2 separate regions of the Homo sapiens genome follow, and region 1 is linked to region 2. The links come from fine-mapping of genetic effects on gene expression. A gene starts in region 2. The other region holds a variant in brackets. All regions are shown on one strand. Distances are from middle to middle. Region 1 holds the start of COX8A (cytochrome c oxidase subunit 8A). Region 2 holds the start of NAA40 (N-alpha-acetyltransferase 40, NatD catalytic subunit).

What was found. PIP is the estimated chance that this variant, and not a neighbour inherited with it, causes the effect.
Region 1: its variant is fine-mapped to the expression of NAA40 in whole blood (TOPMed, PIP 0.90).

What each region holds. Positions count from the first base shown.
Region 1 is chr11:63,973,059-63,978,422 of GRCh38, forward strand. COX8A (cytochrome c oxidase subunit 8A) reads left to right here and starts at 1,562. Exons shown (of 2, transcript NM_004074.3): 1 at 1,562-1,736; 2 at 3,167-3,485. The coding sequence starts at 1,623. The coding sequence ends at 3,262. RefSeq lists enhancers at 1,476-1,915, 4,213-4,890. The variant T/C (reference allele first, on the strand shown) is at 2,757.
Region 2 is chr11:63,935,690-63,941,053 of GRCh38, forward strand. It overlaps NAA40 (N-alpha-acetyltransferase 40, NatD catalytic subunit), which reads left to right and starts at 3,313. Exons shown (of 8, transcript NM_024771.4): 1 at 3,313-3,413. The coding sequence starts at 3,408. RefSeq lists enhancers at 2,316-2,816, 3,055-3,194 and silencers at 2,915-2,964, 3,225-3,304, 3,234-3,419.

The DNA.
Region 1 (5,364 bases), 37 kb after region 2:
CATTTTGAATGCAACAAAAGGCTTGTTGGTGGAAATCAGAGAGCAGGGTCGAAGGTGTGGAATATTGAAGAGTTTTGAGAGTTGAGGCTGGACAGTGACATCCGGGAATTGGGATTTTGACTAGGAAGCAATGGGGAGCCACTGAAAGTATATGACTTGGTCAGATTTAGGTTTAAAAAACCAAGAAGGAAGGGATGGGGGAGGGAGAGAGAGTGATAGGGTAGGAAGGAAGGGAAGTTGGCTGCTCCAGCATGGTAACTGGAATTGAAGAGTGTAATAGTAATTGAGGGAGGTTTGGTTACTAGGTCAGTGTCAGGAATTCTCAACAAAAACGACGGAGGCCTGGTGGAGAGGAGGGGACTCTCAATAGAGAGATTTTTTTTTTTTTTTTTTTTTGAGACGGAGTCTTGCTGTGTCGCCCAGGCTGGAGTGCAGTGGCGTGATCTCAGCTCACTGCAACCTCTGCCTACCGGGTTCAAGCAGTTCTCCTGCCTCAGCCTCCCTAGTAGCTGAGATTACAGGCATCTACCACCATGCCTGGCTATTTTTTGTATTCTTAGTCGAGATGGAGTCTCACCATGTTGGCCAGGCTGCTTTCGAACTTTTTTTATTGTTGTTTTTTATTTTTGAGATGGAGTTTCGCTCTTGTGGCCCAGTCTGGACTGCAATGGCTCAATCTCGGCTCACTGCAACTTCCGTCTCCTGGGTTCAGCAATTCTCCTGACTCAGCCTCCCGAGTAGCTGGAATTACAGGCGCCCACCACCATGCCCAGCTAATTTTTGTATTTTTAGTAGAGACGGGGTTTCACCATGTTGGCCAGTCTGGTCTCGAACTGTTGACCTCAGGTGATCCACCCGCCTCGGCCTCCCAAAATGTTGGGATTACAAGCGTGAGCCACTGCGCCCGGCCAATTTTTGTATTTTTCGTAGAGATGGGGTTTCACCATGCTGGCAAGACTGGTCTCAAACTCCTGACCTCAGATGATCTACCGGCCCCGGCCTCCCAAAGTGTTGGGATTACATGCGTGAGCCACTGCGCCCGGCCAATTTTTGTATTTTTCGTAGAGATGGGGTTTCACCATGCTGGCAAGACTGGTGTCAAACTCCTGACCTCAGATGATCTACCCGCCCCGGCCTCCCAAAGTGCTGGGATTAGAGGCGTGAGCCAACGCGCCCAGCCCGTACTTTTTTTTTTTTAGTACAGACGGCCTCCCAAAAGTTCTGAGATTACGGGCGTGAGCCACCACGCCCAGCCTGAATAGAGAGAGATTTAACAGTATGAATGAAGGGAGGAGTCAAGAACAGTTTAGGCTTCTCGCGTACATGATTGGGTGGCCCCAGATGTCATTCACAAGTATAAGCCTTGGAGGCGGAACATAACTCGAAGAAGAGCCCTTTTGTGCTCCGCCCATAGCGTAGGAAGGTGTCAATTGGCTGTTTCGAGGAACGCGCCAAAAACTGCCAAGGGCTGTGGGAGGTGTGTTCTTGCGTCATTTCCGAGAGACTTCCGCGCCGCAGTTTCCCTGCTTCCCCAGCTCCAGAACTTCCGGCCAGCGCAGCCATTTTGGCTTCCTGACCTTGGGCTACGGCTGACCGTTTTTTGTGGTGTACTCCGTGCCATCATGTCCGTCCTGACGCCGCTGCTGCTGCGGGGCTTGACAGGCTCGGCCCGGCGGCTCCCAGTGCCGCGCGCCAAGATCCATTCGTTGCCGCCGGAGGGGAAGCTTGGGATCATGGTGAGGAACGGGCCTGGAAGAGCGCGGGAGGCGCCGTGGGCTGACCCCTTCTGCCTAGCTGACCTCAGGTGGTCCTGAGAATGCCTCGCGCCCCGCAGCGTAGCGGGGAGCAGCAGTGCCGGTTTGGGCATGTCTGGAGGGCGCGAACGACGGGGACAGTGCCCGGGCGACAGTCGGGGCTGTCGGCGTTAGGTCTTTCCCCACAGCCCCAGGATCTCGGGTCTGGTCCTGTCAGGCCCTCCCTCTCCTGTCGCCTCCTCGCTGCGCCGCCTCCTGCCGACTTCTTTAGCCGCTCTGAGCCCATTTTCTCGTTGGTTCACTGGGGGATGCCTGACGCTGTCAGCGACGAAAATGGTTGTTACTGCTATTTATTTTATTTTATTTTATTTTACTTATTTATTTTGAGACGGGTTCTCGCTCTGTCGCCAGGCTGGAGTGCAGTGGCGCGATCTCGGCTCACTGCAGCCTCCGACTCCCGGGTTCAAGCGATTCTCCTGCCTCAGCCTCCCGAATAGCTGGGACTACAGGCGCGTGCCACCATGCCCAACTAAATTTTGTATTTTTAGTAGAGACGGGGTTTCACCATGTTGGCCAGGATGGTCTCGATCTCTTGACCTCGTGATCCGCCTGCCTCAACCTCCCAAAGTGCTGGGATTACAGGCGTGAGCCACTGCGCCCGGCCTGGGAGGGGGTTTTCAGGCAAGGAAGGATAGGTATCGTTTTGGAGTTACTGGCCCATGCAAGGATCCTGGGTCTTAACATACAGGCTTTGCTTTTTTTGTTTGTTGTTTGTTTTTTTGAGACGGAGTCTTGCTCTGTCACCCAGGCTGGAGTGCAGTGGTGCGATCTCGGCTTACTGCAACCTCCGCCTCCCAGGTTTAAGCCAAGCCATTCTCCTGCCTCAGTCTCCCGAGTAGCTGGGATCACAGGCGCCCGCCACCACTCCCGGCTAATTTTTTGTATTTTTAGTAGAGACGGGGTTTCACCATGTTGGTCAGGCTGGTCTCTAACTCCTGACCT[T/C]GTGATCCGCCCGCCTTGGCCTCCCAAATTGCTGGGATTACAGGTGTGAGCCACCATGCCCGGCCCAGACCAGCTTTAAAACAGGTTTCAATAAATCCTGCTTCCTGTCCCTTCCTTTACCATCTGGTGGTGCATTTCTCCCTGAACCCTAACCCCAGCTGTCTCTCCTTCCTCTCACTCTTCCCCCTCCTTATAACTGACCCTTTACCTCAAGGGTTAGCGTAGCTTTGGACCTGCTCTGTCTGCTCCGTGGAGCGTGGATTCCTTTAACGTGAGGATGCGGGGCCTCCCACTTGCCTCTGAGTCCTGGCTCCCTGAGCGGGGCTTTCTGCTGCCTGGGAACTGCAAGGACTTAGAGAGCCTAGGGGAATACTGACTCCGAGGTGCCTTCTTTCTTGTGCTCTGTGTAGGAATTGGCCGTTGGGCTTACCTCCTGCTTCGTGACCTTCCTCCTGCCAGCGGGCTGGATCCTGTCACACCTGGAGACCTACAGGAGGCCAGAGTGAAGGGGTCCGTTCTGTCCCTCACACTGTGACCTGACCAGCCCCACCGGCCCATCCTGGTCATGTTACTGCATTTGTGGCCGGCCTCCCCTGGATCATGTCATTCAATTCCAGTCACCTCTTCTGCAATCATGACCTCTTGATGTCTCCATGGTGACCTCCTTGGGGGTCACTGACCCTGCTTGGTGGGGTCCCCCTTGTAACAATAAAATCTATTTAAACTTTACTTCAGAAATTCATTGTGCCTTCCCTCCTGCCTGGGCTCATGCCTCCACTGGCACTGGGTGGAGGTGTGGAGAAGAGCGCCCGGCTGGCTGCCCTGTGGTAGGTTTTGTGTGCCTCAGCTGGACTCCTCGTGTGCTTCTGTACCTTTAAATGGTGCCTGGCTTCCTGGGAAGACAAAGCCTGTTGTCATTGTGCAGCTTTTCTGGCTCATCCCCTCCAGCTCCCTTGTTTGTGCAAAGCCCAATGGGCGTGTATGTGTCTGTGTGTGTGTGTGTGTGTGTGTGTGTGTGTGTGTGTGTGTGTCCCACTGGGGCTGGATCTTCAGCTAGAAGCCTTTCCTCTAAGGGGCCAGCCTTCTCTGGTCTTCCTTTTTGGTGGACTTCATTTCTTAGGTGCTGGTGCCCTTCCTAATTGGGGGTAGGGACTTTGCAGAATCTTGGCTTTTTTTTTTTTTTTTTTTTTTTTTTGAGACTGACTCCTGCTCTGTTGCCCAGGCTGGAGTGCAGTGATGCGATCTCGGCTCACTGCAACCTCCGCCTCTCAGGTTCAAGGGATTCTGCTGTTTCAGCCTCCTGAGGCATTACAGGCACCCACTACCACGCCCGGCTAATTTTTTTTTGTATTTTTAGTAGAGACGAGGTTTCACCATGTTGGCCAGGCTGGTCTCGAACTCCTCCTGACCTCAAGTGATCCACCCACCTTGGCCTCCCAGAGTGCTGAGATTACAGCCACTGCGCCTGGCAATCTTGCCTTTTTAATTTTTTTTTCAAGACAGAGTCTTGCTCTGTCACCCAGGCTGGAGTGCAGTGGTGTGATTTCGGTTCACTGCAACCTCTGCCTCTGGTGTTCAAGCAATTCTCCTGCCTCAGCCTCCTGAGTAGCTGGGATTACAGGCACATGCCACCACACCTGGCTAATTTCTGTATTCTTAGTAGAGATGGTATTTCACCATGTTGGCCAGGTCTCAAACTCTTGACCTTGTGATCCACCCTCCTCGTCCTCCCAAAATGCTGGGATTAACAGGCGTGAGAGACCGCTCCGTGCCCCCGCTTTTTTTTTTTTTTTTTTTGAGGCTAGACTGCAGTGGCGCAATCACAGCTCTGTAGCCTTGACTTTGACTGCAGCCTTGACCTCCCAGGCTCAAGCGATCCTCCCACCACAGGTTGTACCCCAGTAGCTGGGACTATAGGCATGTGCTACCACCATGCCTGGCTAGTTTCATCTTTTTTTTTTTTTTTTTGAGACTGAGTCTCACTCTGTTGCCCAGGCTGGAGTGTAGTGGAACAATCTCGACTCACTGCAACCTCCGCCTCCCGGGTTCAAGTGATTCTCAGCCTCCTGAGTAGCTGGGATTACAGGCGCTCGCCACCATGCCCGGCTAATGGTTTTTTTTTTTTTTTTTAAGTAGAGATGGGGTTTCACCCTGTTGGTCAGGCTGGTCTCGAACTTCTGACCTCGTGATCCGCCCACCTCGGCCTCCCAAAGTGCTGGGATTACAGGCATGAGCCACTGCGCCCAGCCATACCTGGCTAGTTTCTTAAAACATTTTCTTGTAGAGATGGGGTCTTACTATGTTGGACAGGCTGATCTTGAACTCGTGGGCTCAAGTGATCCTCCTACCTCAGCCTTTCAAAGTGCTGGGACTACAGGTGTCAGCCACTGCGCCTGGCTGCTTGCTTTTTTTTTTTTTTTTGAGACAGAGTCTCGCTCTGTCGCCAGGCTGGAGTGCAGTGGTGTGATCTCGGCTCACTGCAACCTCCGCCTCCTGGGTTCAAGTGATTCTCCTGCCTCAGCCTCCCGAGTAGCTAGGACTACAGGCGTGTGCTACCACGCCCAGCTAATTTTTGTATTTTTAGTAGAGATGGGGTTTCATCATGTTG
Region 2 (5,364 bases):
CTTCTTTTTTTTTTTTTTTTTTTTTTTGAGACAGAGTCTTGCTCTGTCGCCCAGACTGGAGTGCAGTGGCCTGATCTCGGCTCACTGCAAACTTCGCCTCCCATGTTCAAGCAATTCTCCTGCCTCAGCCTCTCGAGTAGCTGGGATTATAGGCACCTGCCATCACGCCTGGCTAGTTTTTGTATTTTTAGTGGAGATGGGGTTTCACTATGTTGGCCAGGCTGGTCTCAAACTCCTGACCTCAAGTGATCTGCCTGTCTCAGCCTCCCAAAGTGCAGGGATTACAGGCATGAGCCACCACCTTGCCCAGCCTGGACTGTCCTTCCTTTGACCTTGTCCCTACATTCTCATCTCAACCCAGAAGCCAGGGTGGTTCTAGGACCTCCTCTGCCTGCAATGCCCTTTCCCCAGACGTCCTCATTACTTGCTCCCTCACCTTCAGATCTTGACTCAAGTATCACCTCATGTTTGCCTTTCCTGAGCATCCTAGTTAAAACTATAAATCTCTCTCTTTTTTTTTTTTTTGAGATGGAGTTTCATTCTTGTTGCCCAGGCTGGAGTACGACGGTACAATCTTGGCTCACTGCAACCTTTGACTCCCCACTTCAAGTGATTCTCCTGCTTCAGCCTCCCGAGTAGCTGGGATTACAGGCATGTGCCACCACACCCAGCTAATTTTGTATTTTTAGTAGAGACAGGGTTTCTCCATGTTGGTCAGGCTAGTCTTGAACTCCTGACCTCAGGTAATCCTCCCGCCTTGGCCTCCCAAAGTGCTGGGATTACAGTCGTGAGCCACCGTGCCCGGCCTTTTTTATTTATTTTATTTTATTTTATTTTATTTTATTTTATTTTATTTTTCGAGACAGAGTCTCGCTCTGTTGCCCAGGCTGGAGTGCAGTGGCACGATCCTGGCTCACTGCAAGCTCCGCCTTCCGGTTCATGCCATTCTCCTGCCTCAGTCTCCCGAGTAGCTGGGACTACAGGCGCCTGCCACCATGCCCGGCTAATTTTTTTGTATTTTTAGTAGAGATGGGGTTTCATGGTGTTAGCCAGGATGGTCTCGATCTCCTGACCTCGTGATCTGCCTGCCTCGGCCTCCCAAAGTGCTGGGATTACAGGTGTGAGCCACTGCGCCAAGCTTTTATTTATTTTATTTTTTTTTGAGACCGAGTCTGGCTCTGTTACCCAGGCTGGAGTTCAGTGGCGCTATCGGCTCACTGCAACCTTCACCTCCCGGGCTCAAGCAATCCTCTAACCTCAGCCTCCAGAGTAGCTGGGACCACAAGTACACGCCACCACGCCTGGCTAATTTTTTTTTATTTTTAAATTTTTTTGCAGAGACAGGATCTTACTCTGTTGCCCAGGCTGGTCTCAAAGTCGTGAGCTCAAGCAGTCCGCCCATCTCAGCCTCCTAAAGTGTTGGGATTACAGGTGTGAGGCACTGCGCCAGGCCACAACTATAAATCTTGACCTTCCCTGTGCTCTCTCCCTGCTTTTTCTTCCTTCTAGAGCCTGTATCATTTTTTTTTTTTTTTGAGACTCTCTCTGTCGCCCAGGCTGGAGTGCAGTGGCACAATCTCGGCTCACTGCAAGCTCCGCCTCCCGGGTTCACGCCATTCTCCTGCCTCAGCCTCCCGAGTAGCTGGGACTACAGGTGCCCGCCACCCTGCCCGGCTAATTTTTTGTATTTTTTTAGTAGAGACGGGGTTTCGCTGTGTTAGCCAGGATGGTCTCGATCTCCTGACCTCGTGATCCGCCCGCCTCTACCTCCCAAAGTGCTGGGATTACAGGCGTGAGCCACCGCGCCCGGCCGAGCCTGTATCATTTAACTAACTATGTATATTACCTATTTATTTCATCTATTATCGGTCTCCTCCTTCTAGGATACAAGGGTGGTGCCTATTCTGTTTCTTATTGTTGTTTTCCTTGCTGCTTGGAACAGTGCCTAGCATACAGTAGGCACTGGATAAATGTTGTTGAGGCCACCACTGTACTGAGCACTAAAGTTGGAATAATGAGGCTAAGCACAGTGGCTGACGCCTGTAATCCTAGCACTTTGGGAGGCCAAAGTGGGAGGATCGCTTGGGCCCAGGAGTTTGGGACCAGTCTGTGTAACACAGTGAGACCCCATCTCAACAAAAAATAAATAAAAATTGAGCTGCGTATGGTAGTGCACACCTGTAGTCCCAGCTACTCAGGAGGCTGAGGCGGGAGGATCGCTTGAGCCCAGGAGGTCGAGGCTGCAGTGAGCTGTGATTGCACCACTGCACTCCAGCCTGGGCGACCGCGAGACCCTGTCTCTTAAAAAAACAAAAAGATGGAATAATGAGCAAAACCTGAAAAAGTCCATGAAGCTTAAGTGTTGGGCAGCATTTCACTAATTTTCGTCTTGAAGCATTTCACTAATTTTCGCTCCCTACCTGGGGAGCACTAGGAAGTGAAGACTCTGGCTCCACCCCTGGAGATTCTGGGGGAGGTTGGCAGAGGTGTGCACACTGCGGAAGCGCCCCCGGCGGTTTGGATTCGGGTCACGTGCGGGTCACTCCGGTGTGCTGGGGATGGGTTGAAATTAAAACTTTCCGGGATGCCTGGTGTTCACGCTAACAGCACTGTCCACTCTCTCCTAAACAGTGCTTACGTGCCCGTCTCCCCTCTAAACCCTGAGGTGTGGCGCTGAGATGGCACCTCGCTCCTCTCTGTGCCCCCTGGGCTCAGCACCGCGTAGATGCGAGTTAATTTTTATTGAGAACGTGAATGAATGAGGGGGAATGAATGGTTAGAAGACGAATGAATGAGTAACAGGACTCTGGTTAGAAAAGGAATTTCAAGAGTCAAGATCTGGAAGGTGGGAAAGTTTCCAAAGACTTCCGCTACGCGCGCTAGGGCTCTGGAGGGGCAGGTACTTTAGAGGTCGAGACGCGATTGGCCGCCTGGGAAGGTGGCTGTGCCGCCGGCTGCTACGCGCGGGGCCAAGGAGTCGCTGGCCGCAGGGGAGGTGCTGCCAACCACCCGGCCCCCAGCGGCGCGCGACTCACGGCCTGGGTGAGCAGCCAGGCCTGGCGCCGCCGTTGCCATAGTTACAGACGCAGCCCTGCGAGGGGGCGGGCTCTGGCCGCACGTCATTCCCGGCGCGACGCTCCTCCGCGCTCCCGCCTCCTCCTGGTCGGAGACCCTCGGCCAGCCTAGCGGGCGCTCCACCTGCGCGCCGGCTCACCGCTGCCCTGCGCCGGTTCTGCGCCGGCGCGGTACGAGGGCGCGCGGTTGGGCGGGGGGGGGGGGGGAAGCTGCGAGGCGCATGCGCGTTGCAGGGCCGTCCGCTCTGCTGCCGCCGCTGTTGCAGCCACCGCCGTTGCCGCCTCCCTGCCGGCAAGTGTGTGAAGAAGAAGCTGAGCGTTGTCGCCGCCGCTATGGGGGTGAGTGAGGCAGAGAGAGGAGATGGGAGGTCCAGGGGCGCTCCTCGCTACCCTCGCCCCCTTTGTTCTTAAACCCCCCTCTCACGTGACCCCGACCCCCTCCAGCCTCACGTGACCCCTGACCCCCACATGACCCGACTCCCCCATTCTAAGGGTCCCTACGCTAGGCCTAGCCCGGGAATCCTCTGGAGAGCCCCTGGTCCGGGGCCCCACCCCCTCGGCGCCCCCAGCGTCACGCCCGCCCCTTCCTGCTTCGCGGACCCGTTACTGGCCTCCCCACCACCGTCCCCCGCGGGGACCCTGGGGTTAGCTTCCCGCTCCCCCAGGGTCACTCATCACCTGGCTGTCACCAGCTTCGTCGCTTTTCACATCCGAGGTCAACCCTGGCTTGGAGGGAATTGAGGCCCAGAGGAAAGAAGGCGCCTAGCCAAGGTCATATTGTCGGGGGCGTCAGACCCCACCTTGGGCCTCCCGAATCCCAGTCCACTGCCCTTCCCGTTACTCGAGTCTCAGCGAAGCCGGTTCCCCTACACTCTTTCGAAACCTCTCCACCAGGTTCCTGCTGCTCCTGATAAACACAGCCTTCCTTTCCCATAGACTCCTGCCTTCGACGCCTCCTGGTTGCAATGAAATGGTTCTTACGACCGCTTGGGTTGTTAGGGGTTTTGGTAGTGCAGGTGTTTTTTGCAAGGGGAGGGCTGTGCAGGTGTGCGGGGAAGATGCGGGGAGGCGGGGGCGGCGGCCCAGCCGCGGATGGATATTGACCACTTGTTCCGTGCCGGCAGCCTGGAGGTGCATTTTAGTTTACTTTCCCGGGATATAGGGTAGGGCAGAAGTTATTTGCAAGTTTCTGTGCGTTCACCTTACTAAGTCTCAATTACAGCAGTATCAGTCACCCTCCTAAAAAGATAACGCTTTTCCTAGTATTGGCTGTATTCTTTTTTTTTTTTTTTTTTTTTTTTTTTGATATGGAGTTTTGCTCTTGTCGCCGAAGCTGGAGTGCAATGGCGCGATCTCGGCTCACTGCATCCTCCTTCTTCTGGGTTCAAGCGGTTCTCCTGCCTCAGCCTCCCCAGCAGCTGGGATTACAGGCGCCCGCTACTATGCCCGGCTCATTTTTGTATTTTTAGTAGAGACAGGGTTTCACCACGTTGGCCAGGCTGGTCTCGAACTCCTGACCTCGTGATTCACCCGCCTAGGCCTCCCAAAGTGCTGGGATTACAGGCGTGAGCCACCACACAGGCCTATATTAGTATTTACATGGAATTTCCATCACCTTAAGGGAACCCTGACTTTGGAGCCCGAGGTACCTCACTTCCAGCCCCGTCTTCGCTGCTGGTGGTATAATAGTGTGCCAGTGAGTTGGCCTTTATGTGTTTGAATTTCCTCACCTCTGTAATTGGGATGCTAATACCTCCCCCTTAGGGTAGTAGTGAAGATTAAGTGAGATAATGGATGTAGATTGCTAAGGAGGTGTCTCCTAAGTAGTGGCTGTTATTTTTGTCTGTATCCTCAGCCTTAACTTTACTGATCTAAAATGGATTTGTGCTATTTTTAACCCATTGGGTTTGTCCCTACTGTTGTTAACCTAGTTTTTTTTTTTCCCGTCACTCCACTATTTATCGACTGAACAAATCAACTTATTAGACAAAAATAGTTGTCTAATCCGTGTCAAAACAGTCATCGTGTTTTAACAAATAGTTTTGGGTATTACGTACTTCATATGTAGAAAACCAAGTCTAGAGACCTTAGGCATATTTAACCTAAATTTTGGTGAAAGGTCCTAGACACAGCCATTGTTGAAACTAAATGAAACCTGTGTCCCTTAGTAACTGTCTAACCAGAAGCAGCCACTGCGGATTAAGCAGAAAACAAGAAGTGTAACATGCCGTTCTAGTTCAACACTTCCTCGTTGGTTGGACTGAAATAGCAGGCCCTCAACACCATAAGA